Regions from separate parts of the Homo sapiens genome. Here region 1 is linked to region 2. The links come from fine-mapping of genetic effects on gene expression. A gene starts in region 2. The other region holds a variant in brackets. All regions are shown on one strand. Distances are between the middles of the regions. Region 1 has its middle 28 kb from the start of ZNF627. Region 2 holds the start of ACP5 (acid phosphatase 5, tartrate resistant).

Evidence for each region. PIP is the estimated chance that this variant, and not a neighbour inherited with it, causes the effect.
Region 1: its variant is the best candidate, but not a certain one, in a credible set for the expression of ACP5 in sun-exposed skin (GTEx, PIP 0.87).

What each region holds. Positions count from the first base shown.
Region 1 is chr19:11,622,672-11,628,043 of GRCh38, reverse strand. No RefSeq gene overlaps it. Among named protein-coding and RNA genes, the nearest start is that of ZNF627, 28 kb to the right of the region's middle. RefSeq lists an enhancer at 3,906-4,406. The variant G/A (reference allele first, on the strand shown) is at 2,223.
Region 2 is chr19:11,574,898-11,580,269 of GRCh38, reverse strand. It overlaps ACP5 (acid phosphatase 5, tartrate resistant), which reads left to right and starts at 2,625. Exons shown (of 5, transcript NM_001611.5): 1 at 2,625-2,677; 2 at 2,953-3,213; 3 at 3,427-3,554; 4 at 3,682-4,027; 5 at 5,018-5,372. The coding sequence starts at 2,953. The coding sequence ends at 5,260. It overlaps LOC124904638 (a long non-coding RNA gene), which reads right to left and starts at 5,021. Exons shown (of 2, transcript XR_007067140.1): 1 at 4,917-5,021. RefSeq lists a silencer at 1,166-1,355 and enhancers at 2,306-2,445, 1,915-2,526, 2,527-3,139.

The DNA.
Region 1 (5,372 bases), 48 kb before region 2:
TGGGCGACAGAGCAAGACTCCGTCTCAAAAAAAAAAAAAAAAAGAAAAGAAAAGAAAAAAAAGGCTGGGCGCGGTGGCTCATGCCTGTAATCCCAGCGCTTTGGGAAGCTGAGGCGAGCGGATCACGAGGTCAAGAGATGGAGATCATCCTGGCCAACACGGTGAAACCCGTCTCTACTAAAACTACAAAAATTAGCTGCGCCTGGTGGCGCATGCCTGTAATCCCAGCTACTTGAGAGGCTGTGGCAGGAGAATCGTTTGAACCCAGGAGGCGGAGGTTGCAGTGAGCTGAGATCACACCACTGCACTCCAGCCTGGGCAACAAGAGCGAAACTCCGTCTCAAAAAAAAAATAAAATAAAATAAATTGAAGCATTTCTCATAACCAGAATACCATAGTCACACCTACTAATTTCCTAATATTAGCTGACAGCATGACACTGGAATCTCATAAATTATATAAACAATTTAAAAAATATTTTGTAGAGACACAGTCTGACTATATTGCCCGGCTGGTCTTGAAGTCTTGGCCTCAAGGGATTCTGCTGCCTTGGCCTTCCATTGCATATGGAAACGCAAAGTGGAAATGTTATCCATTTAACATAAAAGACAACATAACCTTAAAAATATGTGTGACATTCCCTATCCATAGCTCTGTCTGCAGCCAGAATGAAGAATGAGTCCTAGATTGCCAAAATAACTTTTAATTCTAAATTGTTGAAACTTACAAACTGCAGCGTTGCTTTTCTTTTTTCTTTTCTTTTCTTTCTTTCTTTCTTTTTTTTTTTTTTTTTTTTTTTTTTTTTTGGAGACAGAATTTCGCTTTTGCCCAGGCTGGAGTGCAATGGCGTGATCACAGCTCACCGCAACCTCCACCTCCAGAGTTCAAGCGATTCTCCTGTCTCAGCCTCCCAAGTAGCGGGGATTACAGGTATGCGCAACCACACCTGGCTAATTTTGTATTTTTAGTAGAGGCGGGGTTTCTCCATGATGGTCAGTGCAGGGAGCCAAAGGCCGCTGGGACACGACAAACTCAGCATTCCGCAGGAGTCTATATGATCAAACAGCAAACTGTTTATCATGAATGCAGGTTGTGGGCAAACTCACACTGCCCTGCCACCAAAAGGTTTGCTGAGGGACATCACTCCCTGGCACCGGGCTCCTTGAAGTTATCTACTGAGAAAATTAGTGCCTATTGTCCAAAGGATGCAGTCTCACAAGCCTGCTGTGAACCAAACAGAACCAAACGGCCAACTGACAATTACCCGACAATCACTCCCTCTTTTCTCACTATCCCTTTGGCCTAATAAATACGGAGGACTGTGTAAAGCTCGGGGCCCTTGTCCACTAGAGGCAAGGTGCTGCCCCCATCCCTTCTTCCAAATATACTCTTTTGTCTCTTGTCTTTTATTCCCACGTTCGCCCCCCTTTGTTCAGTCCCCCTAGGTCCGTGCAGGTTACACAGTGGCACCCCAAACAGCGACAGGATCGGAAGCTCTATAAGTGGCACTCGAACAGGCGGCAGTCCAAACACGGGACTATGAGGACGTGAACGAAGAAGGTCTGCTGGAGTAGAGGAACTGAAATTGACAAGACGCACGGGGACTCCGGGATGAGTCTGCCGATAGCGTATGTAAGGTCAGTGCCCTAAAGAAGTACTGGGGGCAGTGCTTTAAAGAAGTACTGGGAAGGGGAAGTTTTCTGAATCAGGTTAACAAGGGGAAGAATTTGTCTACTGAAGAAAAACATTATGTGCACTTGCTTAAGTTTCTGTTGAGACAGTCTGGAGCTCAGGTTAATTCGCAGGCACTAACTAACCTCCTGCAGAAGCCACAAATGGTTATTCACGCATCACCCATGGTTTCCACAGGCAGGCACTCTTGATGCGGAAAATTGGGACAGAGCAGGAGAAGGATTAAAACAGGCTCATCAAAAAGGTTTTAAAGTTGATTCTTCAGTTTTCTCCACTTGGAGTTTAGTTCATACTGTACTTCTGCCATTAGCTCCTTATTATTCTGCGGGACAGCAGGCTGAGTCTAAAAATCTGAAAGAATCTGTTGTCCCACCCACAGCGCCAACTGAAAATAAAAAACAGGTGAGGGAGGATAAAAATTGGCCTATACCGCCTCCTCCAATCGCAGAAACATCTGTACTGCCTCCTTCAGTAGCAGAAATAGAGACCCCAAAACAAACAACTTTATGCTCTGCTGCCATAGCTGGAGA[G/A]CCCTTAGGACCTTGCACTTTTCCTATTTCCGTAAGGCCCGATTCAAATAATCCACAGCAGTTTATTCATGAACACACCCCACTAGAATTTAAGTTGTTGAAGGAATTAAAAACTAGTGTGGTCAATAATGGAGTACATAAGCCCATGGTTCCCGGAAGAAGGAACGCTAGGCTTAGAACTCTGGGAATGAGTGGGGAGAAATCTTGAACAACATCAGGTGCAAAGGCATCAGGTCCCAGTAAAATCTTTAACGTTATGGGCTTTAATTAGAGCAGTCCTGGCTCAGTTTACACACAGAAGAGCCTAAAAAGAGGAAGGAGGAGAAAACGTCACCTGCCTTATCACCTTCTCTTCCCTCAGCCCCAATATCACTGGGCCAAAAATAACAAAGAGGAAACAGAGGTCTTACCTAAGCCTCCTCCTCCAATAGATAGGAAAAAGGACAGAGGATACGCTACAGCTATCAGTCCCTGTCTTGAGCAGGCAGCATTAGAAGGAGAGCTCTTAACCTGCTCAGTAATGCAAAATCGGCAAGGCAAGCAGGTGTATGTCTGTAAAAAGATAAGAAAGGCCGGGCGAGGTGGCTCATGCCTGTAATCCCAGCACTTTGGGAGGCTGAGGCGGGCAGATCACCTGAGGTGGGCAGATCACCTGAGGTCGGGAGTTCGAAACCAGCCTGAGCAACATGGAGAAACCCTGTCTCTACTAAAAATACAAAATTAGCCGGGCGTGGTGGCAAGTGCCTGTAATCCCAGCTACTCGGGAGGCTGAGGCAGGAGAATCGCTTGAACTTGGAAGGCGGAGGTTGCGGTGAGCCGAGATCGCGCCATTGCACTCCAGCCTGGGCAACAAGAGCAAAAACTCCGTCTCAAAAAAAAAGAAAGAAAAAAGGCATTAGAAGCCGAAACCGCGCGACCAAGCAAGCGGTGGGCGGAATAGAAGGTTCAGCAGCAGAAAAGCTGGCAGCGACCAAGCCCACAAGGTCCGCCCAGGCTGGCAGCATGCCCCACCCCCGGCAAAGGAGGGAGGGAGCGGCGCAGACACAGGCAAAACCTGAGCAAGTACAATGCGGCCGCCGCCAAGGACCTGCACCGCAGCCCTCTGGCTCTGTGAGCAGCCCATAGCAAAAGTTCATGTGTTACGTACGTCCCAGACTATGATTCTCTGCTAAGATTTAAGTAAAATGTAAGAATTTGAAAAACCTCTTTTCTAATAATGGCCACTGTTATCTCTCTCCTACCCCTAAGGTAGCTTTCCAAATTCAATTTAAGTAAAACAGTAACCTCTGAAGGGAAAGAGATTACAGAGGGCCCACGAATTCATTAATGAGTAATTAAAAGCTAGGCATGTAAAACCACACATTACCCTTTAAAGGAGAACTTTAAACCTAATTAAATGATATTTGTCAAATTAGAAGGTAAAAATGTTGTGTCCTTCTCAGAAAGTGAAGAAAAGTTGTAAGTGTAGTGAAAACTTATGCATGAATGACTGTCTTACCCACTGATTACAGATAGTGTGATTTGTACTTGCTAAAAGAGTCCTAAATTGAGTTCCCCAGCCAGTGAGTCACTGTTTTCAAGACTGTTTGCCAGATTAAAGTCCATAAACTTGGTCAGCCCAAAAACTCAATTACAAGATTTAAGCTATTCCGCCCGTGGTTTTAAGCACATGGTTAAAGTATATCATTTAAGTCTCTGCTTCTAGAGACGCGTTCAGATTTTCTTTTTAAACTTATTACTATTTCAGCTAGCAATCTTAATGATTAATGCAGTCCAAATGCTAAGTTATGACCCTCATATCATCAGGATTCGTTTAAGTAAAAGGCAATTCGAAGCGGTATTTCACTCCCCCATACCTAAGGCTTTAACACGGTTTACTGATGGGTCTGGTAAACATGGAAAAGCAGCAGGCTAGTAGAGACCACATAATTCAATCACTCGATCTGAGTTTACTAGCACTCAGAGAGCTAAGGTTACTCTGTTTATTTATTTATTTATTTATTTTTGAGACGGAGGCTCGCTCTGTCGCTCAGTCTGGAGTGCAGTGGTGCGATCTCCACTCACTGCAAGCTCCGCCTCCCGGGTTCACGCCATTCTCCTGCCTCAGCCTCCCGAGTAGCTGGGACTACAGGCACCTGCCACCGCGCCCGGCTAATTTTTTGTATTTTTAGTAGAGACGGGGTTTCGCTGTGTTAGCCAGGATGGTCTGGATCTCCTGACCTCGTGATCCGCTCGCCTCGGCCTCCCAAAGTGCTGGGATTACAGGCGTGGGCCACCGCGCCCGTCCTATCAGGTTACTCTGTTTATTTATTAAAGAACTTTTACAACTTTAAGCTTGCTCTGGACTTTGCAGCCTTATGTTGCAAATATAGCCATCAATTTATGGGGTCGAGACTTACAGCATGGGATAGGAGACTTACAAATGAAAACTTTGATAATCCAGGATTTAAAATGTTGAAGAACATGGGATATCAGAGTGAAAAAGGTTTAGGGAAATTTCTACAATGAAATCCTAACCCGATATCAGTAACTGGAAAAACAGATAGAAAAGGGCTAGGACACAAGGATTTCTGACGGGGGGGTCATTGATATTTGATATTTCTCCTTTGCCCACTGCCTTACCATTAGAATGGCTCAGTGACAAACCTGTGTGGGTGGATCAATGGCCCCTATCACAAAAGAAGCTAGATGAACTTCATCTGTTGGTAAAAGAGCAATTGAACACAGGACATATAGAAAAGTCAGTTAGCAGGCCGGGCGCGGTGGCTCACGCCTGTAATCCCAGCACTTTGGGAGGCCCAAGCGGGAGGATCACGAGGTCAGGAGATCGAGACCATCCTGGCTAACACAGTGAAACCCCGTCTCCACTAAAAATACAAAAAAAATAGCTGGGCATGGTTGCAGGCGCCTGTAGTCCCAGCTACTTGGGAGGCTGAGGCAGGAGAATGGCATGAACCCGGGAGACAGAGCTTTACTCCAGCGTGGGCGACAGAGCGAGACTGTCTCAAAAAAAAAAAGAAAAGTCAGTTAGCCCCTGGAATTCTCCAGTATTTGTGATTCCAAAAAGGTCCCAAAACAATAACGACCTCTGGGGTTTCAGCTCAACATTCAGAGCTAACTGCAGTCATTCAGGTTTTACAGCTCACAGCT
Region 2 (5,372 bases):
TTTTTTTGGGGGGGACAGAGTCTTGCTCTGTCGCCCAGGCTGGAATGTAGTGGCATGATATTGGCTCAGTGCAACCTCCTCCTCCTGGGTTGGAGTGCAGTGGCATGATCTCAGTTCACTGCAACCTCTGCCTCCTGGGTTCAAGAGAGCACCTCCAGCTAATTTTTGTCTTTTTAGTAGAGACAAGGTTTTGCCATGTTGCCCAGGCTGGTCTGGAACACCTGACCTCAAGTGATCCGCTCACCTCGGCCTCCCAAAGTGCCAGGATTACAGGTGTGAGACACCACACCGGCTAAATAATAAGTTTTTAAAAAAACAGGAGACTGGCCAGGCATGGTGACTCACGCCTGTAATCGCAGAACTTTGGGAGGCTGAGGTGGGCAGATCACCTGAGATCGGGCATTGGAGACCAGCCTGGCCAACATGGAGAAACCCCGTCTCTACTAAAAATACAAAATTAGCCGGGCGTGGTGGTGCGTGCCTGTAATCACAGCTACTAGGGAGGCTGAGGCAGGAGAATCGCTTGTACCCGGGAGGCGGAGGTTGCGTGAGCCAAGATTGCGCCACTGCACTCCAGCCTGGGCAACCAGAATAAAACTGTCTCAAAAAAAAAAAAAACAAAAACAGGCCGGGCGCGGTGGCTCACGCCTGTAATCCCAGCACTTTGGAAGGCCAAGGTGGGTGGATCACGAGGTCAGGAGATCGAAACCATCCTGGCTAACACGGTGAAACCCCGTCTCTACTAAAAAATACAAAAAATTAGCCGGGCGCGGTGGCGGCGCCCGTAGTCCCAGCTACTCGGGGGTGCTGAGGCAGGAGAATGGCGAGAACCCGGGAGGCAGAGCTTGCAGTGAGCCGAGATCGCGCCACTGCAGTCCGGCCTGGGTGAAAGAGCGAGACTCTGTCTCAAAAAAAAAAAAACCAAACAAACAAACAAACAAAAAAACAAAACAACAGGAGAAGATGATGACAGACCTCACAAGAGCTTGGCCCCAGGGCTGAAACCCCACCCAGTGCTGTGGTTCTGCGGCTGTGGGCCCATGGGTGCCCCCAAAGGGTCCCAGGCAGATGGAGGCTCCTGGTTGGCGTGGAGGAAGGAAAAGGATGAAATCGGCTCCCCTGGCCACCCCTTCTAGCCCAGCTGCAGCTGCAGTCCGTGGGTCTGAGCCGACCCTTGGGGTTCATCGGCCCATTTTACAGATGCGGAGCCTACAGCCGGGAGGCGTGGCGGCTCTGGGCGGTGCAGGGTTCCGGGGCGGGGAGGCCGAGGCGCCCGCCCTCCCCGCCGGGGCTCACCTGGGTCAGCCCTGAGCCCTCGAGCAGGGCGGATCGGCCGCTGCCTGCTTAAAGCTGGGGCCGCCAGGAGTGCGATCGCCTGCGGATCTGCAGCTGGGCACCGGCCGCAACGCCCGCCCCGCGACGGCAGGTGAGATGCGGGCGGCCCCGTGGGAGGGGTCTCTGCCTGTCCTCGTCACCCACTTCCTTCCCGTTTGTTGCTGCTGCAGGGCTGGGAATGGGGGGGACCAAGCACTTCGCAGGGTGACCCGGGGAGATCTGTGAGCCAGTGGCCTCAGCGTTGAATGAGAGCTCTCTCCCGGGTCCGCGCTCGCAGGGACTGAAGGGACTCCTGAATGTCCGCGGGACGTGTCGCGGCGGCGCCCAGCACGGAGGAGGCAGGCAGGGAGGTGAGGAGCAGGTCAGACCGGCCGCAGGTGCAGGGCCTCCTGCCCTCCCAGGCTGCGGTCCCGTGGAGGGCCTGCAGACAGCTGCTGAGACTATGAGGGTCAGAGGTCTGTGGTCACGCGCGCTATCACCAGCTAGCTGCCTCCTGCCTGGTTCCTCCTGCAGGAATGGGAGTCTGGGGGGAGGGGAGGGTGTGGGCAGGACTTCCTGGAAAAGGGAAGCCCGTTGGTGTTTATGTGTGGGATGGAGAGAGGGCAGGGGGAGGACGGGGACACACGCGGAGTCCCCCACCCAGATGTTGTCAAACACAGCTCCCACACCAGACACGCAACCCATCCTAGAGATGCAACCCAGGCACACACACATGGACACACACAAAACTCCATCCATAGGGATTCCCACCCAGTGCCACGTGAGAACACAGGCGTGCATCGCAGACAAGCCACACAGGCCTCGCAGGCTCAGCATACATGTCTGCAGCAACACCATCAGGTACAGAGCCGAGGCCCAGGTAGGCATGCTCAGCTGCACGCAGGAAGCAAGACACACCCAGACACACACAGGTAAGCCCTTACTCAGAGAAAGAAGGTGCAGGAGATGTGTCTTGGGTAATCACAGCCACAGCCTCTCAAGTGTGCACACACACACACACTCACACTGAGATACACAGACACACAGAGATACCTGGACGTGTCAAGCCTACAGCACAAACAGGCCCCTGCAGGTCCACCCGGAGGCTGTGTGGGCCGAGGCTGCTGCACACGTGTGCCCAGATCCTCCCACCCCCACCCCAATCCCGTGTCCTGCTCCAGGGAAGTCCAGGGCTCACATGACCCAAGGGGAGGGCTCCCGGGACAGCCCTCGGAGAAACTGCATCATCCTCACTAATGATCCACTTCCTCCTCAGGGAATAAAGGCTCAGGGACCGGCAGTTCTACTCTAGAGCCCACCAGCCTCTCAGAGCCTCCGGTGACTGGCCTGTGTCTCCCCCTGGGTGAGTGCTGGGCAGGCTAGGTGGAAGGAGGGTGAAATGGGCCTGCAGGGCCATCTTGGTACAGCTCGCCCTCTCACAGACCGCGCCCCCCTTCCCTAAGCCAGCTTGTGCAGCCTTGTGCAGCTTGTGTGTCCTGAGAATTAGGGCACCAAGGGGTTCCCGCAGGGGCAGCCTGCAGCAAGCAGTCTCCCTCTATCTCAGGGCAGGCGGGGGTCTCAAGGCCTCCCTGCCCTTGTCACAGCCCGGGCCACCTATGCTTGTCTCTCTTCTCCCAGATGGACATGTGGACGGCGCTGCTCATCCTGCAAGCCTTGTTGCTACCCTCCCTGGCTGATGGTGCCACCCCTGCCCTGCGCTTTGTAGCCGTGGGTGACTGGGGAGGGGTCCCCAATGCCCCATTCCACACGGCCCGGGAAATGGCCAATGCCAAGGAGATCGCTCGGACTGTGCAGATCCTGGGTGCAGACTTCATCCTGTCTCTAGGGGACAATTTTTACTTCACTGGTGTGCAAGACATCAATGACAAGAGGTTCCAGGTCTGTGCCCAACAGAGTGGGGCAGGAGGTGGGGGCGGGCAGTGGGGAGAAGCCGCCTTACCTAGTGACCTTCCTTTGGTGAGGGCAGAGGGAAGGTGATGGGGCACCTTTGGGCGCCGGGAGCATTCAGTGTCTCCCTTATCCTGACTTGGTGGGAGGATCGGCATAGCCACTGACCCCAGGGAAGAGGCCTGCCCTATCTGTTTGCTACAGGAGACCTTTGAGGACGTATTCTCTGACCGCTCCCTTCGCAAAGTGCCCTGGTACGTGCTAGCCGGAAACCATGACCACCTTGGCAATGTCTCTGCCCAGATTGCATACTCTAAGATCTCCAAGCGCTGGTGAGCCACCCTCAGCCCTGCCTTCCGAGATCCTCACATAGCAGGGACACAGGGGCCCTGTGGCTTGAGCTGACCCTGGGACTTCTGCGCCCAAGATGTGCACCCACGACCTCTATCCCCTCCACAGGAACTTCCCCAGCCCTTTCTACCGCCTGCACTTCAAGATCCCACAGACCAATGTGTCTGTGGCCATTTTTATGCTGGACACAGTGACACTATGTGGCAACTCAGATGACTTCCTCAGCCAGCAGCCTGAGAGGCCCCGAGACGTGAAGCTGGCCCGCACACAGCTGTCCTGGCTCAAGAAACAGCTGGCGGCGGCCAGGGAGGACTACGTGCTGGTGGCTGGCCACTACCCCGTGTGGTCCATAGCCGAGCACGGGCCTACCCACTGCCTGGTCAAGCAGCTACGGCCACTGCTGGCCACATACGGGGTCACTGCCTACCTGTGCGGCCACGATCACAATCTGCAGGTGAGGGCCCTGTGGGTGGGGTGGGAGCTGGGTGAGGGGGGTCCCCATCCCAGCTGATGTCCACATGGCTGGGGTCCTCCTGCTGTTTGAGGGTCTCCTGTGGCCTTCAGAATGTCTAGACTGTCCCTCAAATCTTGCTGTCTAACCAGGAAAACACTCCAAAGCCAGAATAATATCTTCGAATTGCCAATTTCTTTCTTTCTTTCTTTTTTAAGCTCTTTTTTTTTTTTTTTTTTGGAGACAAGGTTTCATTGTTTTTCACCCAGGCTGGAGTGCAGTGGTGCAATCGGGGCTTACTGCAGCTTCAATCTCCCGGGCTCAGGTGAACCTCCCACTTCAGCCTCCAGAGTAGCTGACACTACAGGCATGGGCCACCACATGCAGCTAATTTTTGCTTTTTTTTTTTTTTTTGAGAGGGAGTGCAGTGGCACGATCTCAACTCACTGCAACCTCCGCCTCCTGGGTTCAAGCAATTCTCCTGTCTCAGCCTCCCAAGTAGCTGGGATTACAAGCATGGGCCACCAAACCTTGCTAATTTTTATATTTTAGTAGAGACGGGGTTTCACCATGTTGGCCAGGCTGATCTCGAACTTCTGACCTCAAGTGATCTGCCCGCCTCGGCCTCCCAAAGTGCTGGGATTATAGGCATGAGCCACTGCACCTGGCCCTTGCGCATTTTTTTTGTAGAGGCAAGGTCTCACTATGTTGCCCAGGCTGGTCTCAAATTCCTGGGCTCAAGCAATCCACCCCCTCAGCCTCCCAAAGTGCTGGGATTACAGGCATGAGCCACCACACCTGGCCACCAATTTCTTACTAAGTGCTCTACCTATGAAATAGGATTAATACACTCCTAAAAGTCAGGAAATTGAAGCCAGGAGGGGTTACATACCTCAAGGTGACTCTGTGGTTAGGGCCAGATCGAGCCCTGGACCTTAGGCAGGGCTCTGCTCAAAGCTGGGTCTCCACTGACCCCTTGTCCTCCATCCTCAGTACCTGCAAGATGAGAATGGCGTGGGCTACGTGCTGAGTGGGGCTGGGAATTTCATGGACCCCTCAAAGCGGCACCAGCGCAAGGTCCCCAACGGCTATCTGCGCTTCCACTATGGGACTGAAGACTCACTGGGTGGCTTTGCCTATGTGGAGATCAGCTCCAAAGAGATGACTGTCACTTACATCGAGGCCTCGGGCAAGTCCCTCTTTAAGACCAGGCTGCCGAGGCGAGCCAGGCCCTGAACTCCCATGACTGCCCAGCTCTGAGGCCCGATCTCCACTGTTGGGTGGGTGGGCCCTGCCGGGACCCTGCTCACAGGCAGGCTTTTCCTCCAACCTGTGGCGCTGCAGCAGG